2 linked regions of the Homo sapiens genome follow. The protein of the gene in region 1 purifies or fractionates together with the protein of each later gene. This does not show direct contact. Each region holds a gene or a part of one and is shown on either strand. Other genes may lie near its edges. The genes, in order: GRK4 and DGKE.

Region 1 (3,826 bases):
TAATCTAGATAGACAAAGTAGAAAATATAAGAAAACCAAACTGACCTGGTTGCTAATAACCTGGCTGATTGATAGCATCCCAAATTAGCTGTACCATAATGATAGTAACAGACGGTAGACATTATTGCTTAGGGAAAATGGGGTAACCTTTTGTTGGCAGAGAAATAATTTGGCTGACTACTACATAGATTACTTCAAATATCTGACAGATAAGAAATACTAAGTTTATAACTCTTTCTAGAAAACTTGATCTTACATGCTGTTGAAAATTCTAATAGGCCGGGTGTAGTGGTTCACCCTGTAATCCCAGCACTTTGGGAGGCTGAAGTGGGAGGGTAGGATCACTTGAGTCCAGGGGTTCCAGACTAGCCTGGGCAACATAGTGAGACCCCATCTCCACAAAAACCACAAAATTATCTGTGCATGGCAGCGCATGCCTGTGGTCCCAGCCACTTGGGAGTCTGAGACAGGAGGACTGCTTGGCCCCAGAGTTCAAGGCTTTGAGGCTTCAGTAGCTATGATTTCCCCACCTGCACTCCAGCGGGGTAACAGAGTGAGACCCTGTCTTTAAAAAAAAAAAAGGCTGGGCACCATGGCTCACGCCTGTAAATCCTAGCACTTTGGGAGGCCGAGGTGGGCGGATCACCTGAGGTTGGGAGTTCGAGACCAGCCTGACCAACATGGAGAAACCCCATCTTTACTAAAAATACAAAATTAGCCGGGCGTGGTAGTGCATGCCTGTAATCCCAGCTACTTGGGAGGCTGAGGCAGGAGAATCGCTTGAACCCAGGAGGCGGAGGTTGCGGTGAGCCGAGATTGTGCCATTGCACTCCAGCCTGGGCAACAAGAGCGAAACTCTCTTTAAAAAAAAAAAAAAAGAAAAGAAAGAAAGAAAGAAAAGAAAAGAAAAGAAAATTTGGCCAGGCACAGTGGCTCACACCTGGAATCCCAACAATTTGGAAGGGCAAGGCGGGTGGATCATTTGAGGTCAGGAGTTCAAGACTAGAAAGAGCAGTCTTTTAATTTCCTCAGCTAGGGAATTTCAAAGGCAACTTTGAGGATTCTCTGCAATCGCTCCTCTATCCAGTGTCTTCTACCTTCAGCATCTCTCTGATCTCCTCTTTCCTCTCCGTTCTCCTAGCTACCCCTCTGGCCCTAGCGCATATGGCCTATGCCTGCTTACTATGTCATGTAAACAGGCCCTTGCAATGGCCCTTTGTTGGTTTCTTCTGCAGCCCTTCCCTTACTTCTCCCCCACGGTGTATGTCTTGGTGGGACTGTCATTCCAGCTGCCTGGTTCCCCCTTAGCCACGGATGCAGGAAGGGGGCCAGAGCCAAGCCAGCCAATTGGTGCTCTCTCCCAGGATAAGAATCATGAAATTCATGAGGCAAAATCAGATAAATAAAATAAAAAGATACCTGCTCTGTCACAGGAGTGACCGTGGAGACCTGATTATCAATCAGCAGCCCCCTGTCTAAAACTATCCAAAACTGCAACTACCAATGCCACCTGGGCGCTTCCTACCCCCATCCCTGCTGTAGTCTCCCGTGGCACTCACTGCTTGCTAATATGCCACACGTCTTATTTATGTGCCTCAAGACTGCCTCCCCTATAAGAATGTGGTCTCCAGAATGGCAGGAATTTCTGAACATGTTGTTTATTGCTATAGGAACAGTACCTGGAACATTCTGAGCACACATCTGCCAAATGAATGCATGAATGAATGAGTCCCACATCCTGTTCTTTCCAGACTGATTGTTAGGTTCTTACTTTGATTCTTTGAGCTACCCAATATCTTCTCCATAAATTTCCTATTTGCTTAAGTTAGCAAAAGTTCTAGGGAGGAAGCCTCAGCAAGAGACAGCATTAATAATAACAGGTATATTAACCATGCTGCAGGTGTTAAAGAAACTGCTCAATAACACCGCAGCCTGAAATCAGAACAGAATTGCAATATATAAGACCAAAACCCACATTAAATGCACGTATTACGTATTCCTCTCTGCATTTGTTTTCAATTTCTCCAAGAGATAAGACGGTGTTAAAGTCTCCTCAGAAGTATGATGTGAAATAATTTAAGCTTATTTAAAGCATAAAAGTTATAAGTTGCTTAACAAATAATATTATACAGGGAAAAAATCCTAAATTAAAAAAAAAAACAAAACAGGCCGGGCACAGTGGCTCACGCCTGTAATCCCAGTACTTTGGGAGGCTGAGGCGGGTGGATCACCTGTGATCAGGAGTTCGAGACCAGCCTGACCAACATGGAGAAACCCCCGTCTCTACTAAAAATACAAAATTAGCCAGGCATAATGGTGCATGCCTGTAATCCCAGCTACTCGGGAGACTGAGGCAGGAGAATTTCTTGAACCCGGGAGGCAGAGGTTGCAGTGAGCCGAGATCACGATTGCGCCATTGCACTCCAGCCTGGGCAACAAGAGCAAAACGACGCCTCAAAAAAAAATTGTTTTTATATTTATTAACAATATGATCTATGAACCTATGAATTATATCAAGGAAAAAAAAATAAAACAAAACACCAACAAAAACCCAATACGGGCCGGGTGCAGTGGCTCACGCCTGTAATCCCAGCACTTTGGGAGGCTGAGGTGGGCGAATCACTTGAGGTCAGGAGTTCAAGACTAGCCTGGCCAACATGGCAAAACCTTGTCTCTACTAAAAATACAAAAAATTAGCCGGGAATGGTGGGTGCCTGTAGTCCCAGCTACTTGGGAGGCTGAGGCAGGAGAATCACTTGAACCCAGGCGGCAGAGGTTGCAGTGTGCTGAGATCATACCACTGCACTCCAGCCTGGGTGACAGAGTGAGACTCTGTCTCAAAACAAAACGAAACAAAATAAGACCAAACCAATATGATCATTTCACGCTTCCTTCATGTCCCTGGCAGAGTGACACACAAACACTTTCAGTGCAGCATCATCTGCCAACATTCCTGAAAGGAAAAGGCTCTAACAATCTTCTGTTTAGACCATCTTAGTCTGTTCAAGCTGCTCTAACAAAATACTATAAACTGAGTAGCTTATAAATTGCAGAAATGTATTTCTCACAGTTCTGGAAGCTAAAAAGTCCAAGATCAAGACAGATTTGGTGTCTGGTGAGGGCCCACTTTCTGATTCATAGCTGGCATCTTCTTTCTGTGTCCATGGTAGAAGGAGTGAGGGGTGTCTCTCTAGTTTCTTTTATAAAGGCACTAATACCATTCACGAGGGTTCCACTCTCATGACCCAATCACCTCCCAAATGCCCCACCTCCTAATTCCATCCCCTTCGTAGTGAAGATTTCAACATAAGAATTTTGGGGGAACACAAATATTCAGACCATAGCAGGGACCAGAGAGGGAGGGGGGATTGAGACTGACTGATTCTATTTGAAATAAATCCAGGAAATGACCGGACTCACTAATAATATTAAATCAACATTGCGCTTCTCAGGACCAGAATATAACTCTTGTGCTACGTTCATTCATTTCAAAGGTTAATTTTCTAGTATATGAGCCAGTGAAGCTAAACAAGGAGCTGTCCATGAAGTTATGTGTCCAAGAAGACACCTCCTGGTACTTCCTGGGAGATACTTTAAAGTAACAAACACAGTCATCAACTTGGGAAAAAGCCCTAAATTATAACCAATACTCAGCATGTATCCATGTATATCTAATATTATATATTCAACTTCTCTAACCATTAATCAAGCTATACATAATGATGCTTTCTGACCACAGGAGCAAATACTCTCACTCAATGGGGACAGGCCTCATAATCACACTACTGTGGAGTTAATATGAGATATTTCAGGGAAAAAATTAAAA
Region 2 (3,826 bases), on another chromosome or scaffold:
GCCTCATTCTATTGGGCTGGAAACTGAGGTGCAGGAAGGTTAAATCACTTGCCTGTGATTGTCCAGGTAATTAAGTGCTGAAATACAAGGCTAGGTGTGGTAACTCATGCCTATAATCCCAGCACTTTGGGAGGCCAAGGCGGGTGGATCACTTGACGTCAGGAGTTCGAGACCAGCCTGGCCAACATGGTGAAATCCTGTCTTTACTAAAAATACAAAAATTAGCCAGTGTGGTGTTGTGTGCTTGTGATCCTAGCTACTCGGGAGGCTGAGGTAGGAGAATCACTTGAACCTGGGAGGCAGAGGTTACAGTGAGCCAAGATCATGCCCCTGCACTCCAGCTTCGGCAACAAAGCAAGACTCTGTCTCAAAAAAAAAAAAAAGTTATAGTTTATCTACTATACCACATTGCCTCCTTCTTGTTCACATAAACCACAATGTGCTAAGTTCACCTTTAATTAGTGTTTCATATCTTATACTGGCTTAAAAAAAAATCACCAGTGCAACTTAGCACAAATTTCTGGAAAGCAATTTTGCAATACATAGAAAATGACATAAAAATGCAAGTAACTTTGATTATCCATAATTCTGTCAACGACCCTAGAAAAATATTTCGAAAGACAAAAATGCCTAAAAATATGTATAAAAATATTCACTGTGGCATTATTTATAGTACAATCATAGAGACAGTGTTACCTTTCAACAGTAGAGACTGGATAAATAATGCTATTTCCATTCAATTATTTTAGTCATTAAATATGTAACTATGAGGACTATGTTGAAACAAGGAAAAATATTTATACCATTAAAATTAAAAAAATCAGAATGCAAATTTGTATCTAGATTATTGTTATAGTACTGTTAATATGTAAAGTAAATGCATAGATAATTAATGGAAAGAACAAGAAAAAAGAGAACTGATGTATTTGTATGGAGAAATTGCAAATGATTTTCTCTGTATTTTTTATAATTTTCTTAAACTGTATAATATTGAAAGTGTAAAAAATACAAATTGGAAGGACAAAGTTATTGCACTTCTAATTGCTACACAATGGGTTGTCTTTAAAATTTTTTTGTATTTTTTTGTTTTTTGGTTAATTTTTCAAAGTAAAATTATATTCAATTTTAACGATCCCTTTTATTTTTAAAACTGAGGTATAATTTACATATAAGATTCACCCATTTGAAGTGAACAAGTCAATAATTTTTATTAAGTTCACTGAATTGCACAACCACCACCATCATCCAGTTTAGAACATTTTTGTTGCTTCAATAAGATCCCTCAATGTCCATTCGCAATCACTCCCCATTTCCAGCCCTAGAACCAATAATCTATTCTCTACCTCTACAGACTTGCCTTTTCTAGACAAGTCACATAAGTGGAGTCATACAATATAAGGTCCCTTGTATCTGCCTTCTTTCACTTAGTATGTTTTTGAGGTTCATTTATTGTAATATATACGTATCAGTAGTTTGTTCCTTTTTGTCATTTCATGGTATTCCATTGTAGGGCTACATCACATTTTGTTTATCAACTCATCAGCTGATGAACAGCTGGGCTGTTTATGCTTTTCAGCTATCATGAATAATGCTGCTGTGAACATTTTCATGCAAATGTTTGTGAGAAATATGTTTTCACTTCCCTTGGGTAGATTCCTAGTAGAGGACTTGCTAGAAGATATAATAAATTTATATTTATCTTTTTAAGAAACTGCCAAGATGTCTTCTAAAGAGGTTGTACCATTTTATATTCCCACAAGAGTGCCTGTTTATCCACATATTTAAATGGCTGATCTTTTTGTAATTATTATTCTTTCCTATGATCAGGTGATTAGTGACTTGAAGCATTAATAATCATTGCATTTTGGGGAAAATGAAAACATTAATATAAAAAGTTTTTTTCTTTAGTTACCTGGACTGGATTCAACAAGATCCTAAATTCTCCCAACAGTCCTTCTCCCATATTAGTTCCACTACGAGAGTTGGCCAGGATTATTAATGGGGTCCACTGCTTTCCAAGCTTAGAGGCTAGCTAAAAAAAATTGCCATGAGTGAAAAGGTTTAGTATCTTAAAGATGAAAAGCACATTTTCCATGCCTTGAGAACAATGGTGCTATAATTTGCTGAAATAAAAACTATACTAGTTCTCTCAATTCAATATAAAAATCAAAGAATTCTAAGAATGGAAGGGAACCTCAGAAATTAACTAATTTAAGCTCCCATTCAATGTTTAATTCTCTTCTACATTATTCTAGATAAGTCATCCAGCATATGCTCGCACACTCACATAAGGAACTCACTAGTAATGCAGCCCATTACACTGCTACATCAAATTATTAGAAAGTTTGGACTTAAACTGAGTTGAAAATCTGTCTTTCTATAACTTTCAACCATTCACAGAATAGACACTGATTTTTTTCTCTGACCTTTCACCTTGATTTTCCTTTACTGGATGTATTCTGGTGTGTTTTGCAAGGTTTTATTTCTTTTTTTAAAATGGGGTACTCAGATTAAAAAATCTGGACTTCTAATAGCTCAAAGTCAAATGAAATTAATACTTTTCAAAATGTAACCATTTCTTCTTCCCCTCTCCTTGTAGATGTAACCATTAATGAAGTTATTCTATAGTTTTACTTAGAGATTCTTCTCTCTTGTGATCTCAGGTTGAACTCAGATAAATAAGAGATTGTACATTTAAAAAAACTGTCAAAACAATATTGTTTGAAAAATTTAAAATGTCCCTTCCCTTGCAGGAATATTGACAAAGGTGGCATGTAAGTCATAAAATCTTAATTTGAAAAAGGTACAATTTTAAAATAAAATAGTTCAATTATTTTGGTATATCCAATTAGAAAATAAATCCATAAATTTTTATGATGTTTCCTTAAGAGCTACATAAAGACTGAGAGATTCAATAAGTTACATCAATTTCATACACATATCTACATCTATAAACTGTTAACAGGTTTAGTGTTCACCATTATTTGTGGGAGCATTTAATGTGCAACATAAACTTATCTCTAGGGACCCTGTATAAAGTTCAAAATAGAAAAATAGTTTTAGAAAAAGGTGTGAGGAAAATCTATTTTCTTTTCACTGACAATAATCATGAATCCCAAAACTGACTGTTCATCAGAATCTTCTGAGGACCTTAAAAAAAAAGATGAATTCCTGGACTTACCCTATACCTACTAAATCAAATATGGCAATGAAGGTACTACTCAGAAATCTGTATTTTTAAAAAGCTCCCTAAATCATTCAGATGCAGGCAATGATTTGGAAACCACTAATATAACATTTCCAATTTCCTTTTAGACATGAAAGAACTCAAGAGCCAAAATTTTTGACCCATCTCTAGGAACTAGGTAGGATTTTATGGCTTACCATAATAGCATTTTATTTCTCTCCTTGGTCTTGATCTGTTATTTAAGTTTATTTTATTCCTGGCACCAATTCTTCTTACATACTGTCTTAACTATCTCAAACAATGAGTTAAGCAGCTTTTTAAAAATCAATCATATTAGAGAAATAAACTCTAATTACCACTTCATAATCTGTTTTTTTGTCTTTACGCATCTGATTAATGGATGTTAAATAACTTGGTGGAATGATTAGGTTTTTGAATTCTCCAAAATCACATTTTTCATTCTTTAAACTATTTTTCATGCACTCATCATGTACTGTTTTCTGGCACCAAATGCACCTGAGGGAAGGAAGAAACAAGCATTAACTAATTTTAAACCATAATCTCAATGATAACCCACAAAACAATCATTTTTGTTAAAAAATAAAACATAATTTTATCACTACTTACCATAACATTTGG

Evidence for each region.
Region 2: the proteins of GRK4 (region 1) and DGKE purify together in Homo sapiens (affinity purification with mass spectrometry; one large-scale study listed by BioGRID and IntAct). This does not show direct contact.

Annotation. Positions count from the first base shown.
Region 1 is NC_000004.12:2,966,432-2,970,257, reverse strand, and holds part of GRK4 (G protein-coupled receptor kinase 4), read right to left. Parts: intron 1-3,826. UniProt on the Homo sapiens protein: Specifically phosphorylates the activated forms of G protein-coupled receptors. GRK4-alpha can phosphorylate rhodopsin and its activity is inhibited by calmodulin; the other three isoforms do not phosphorylate rhodopsin and do not interact with calmodulin.
Region 2 is NC_000017.11:56,843,896-56,847,721, reverse strand, and holds part of DGKE (diacylglycerol kinase epsilon), read right to left. Parts: exon of another isoform or gene 3,823-3,826; coding exon of another isoform or gene 3,815-3,822; intron 3,704-3,814; coding exon 3,544-3,703; intron 2,033-3,543; coding exon 1,913-2,032; intron 1-1,912. UniProt on the Homo sapiens protein: Membrane-bound diacylglycerol kinase that converts diacylglycerol/DAG into phosphatidic acid/phosphatidate/PA and regulates the respective levels of these two bioactive lipids.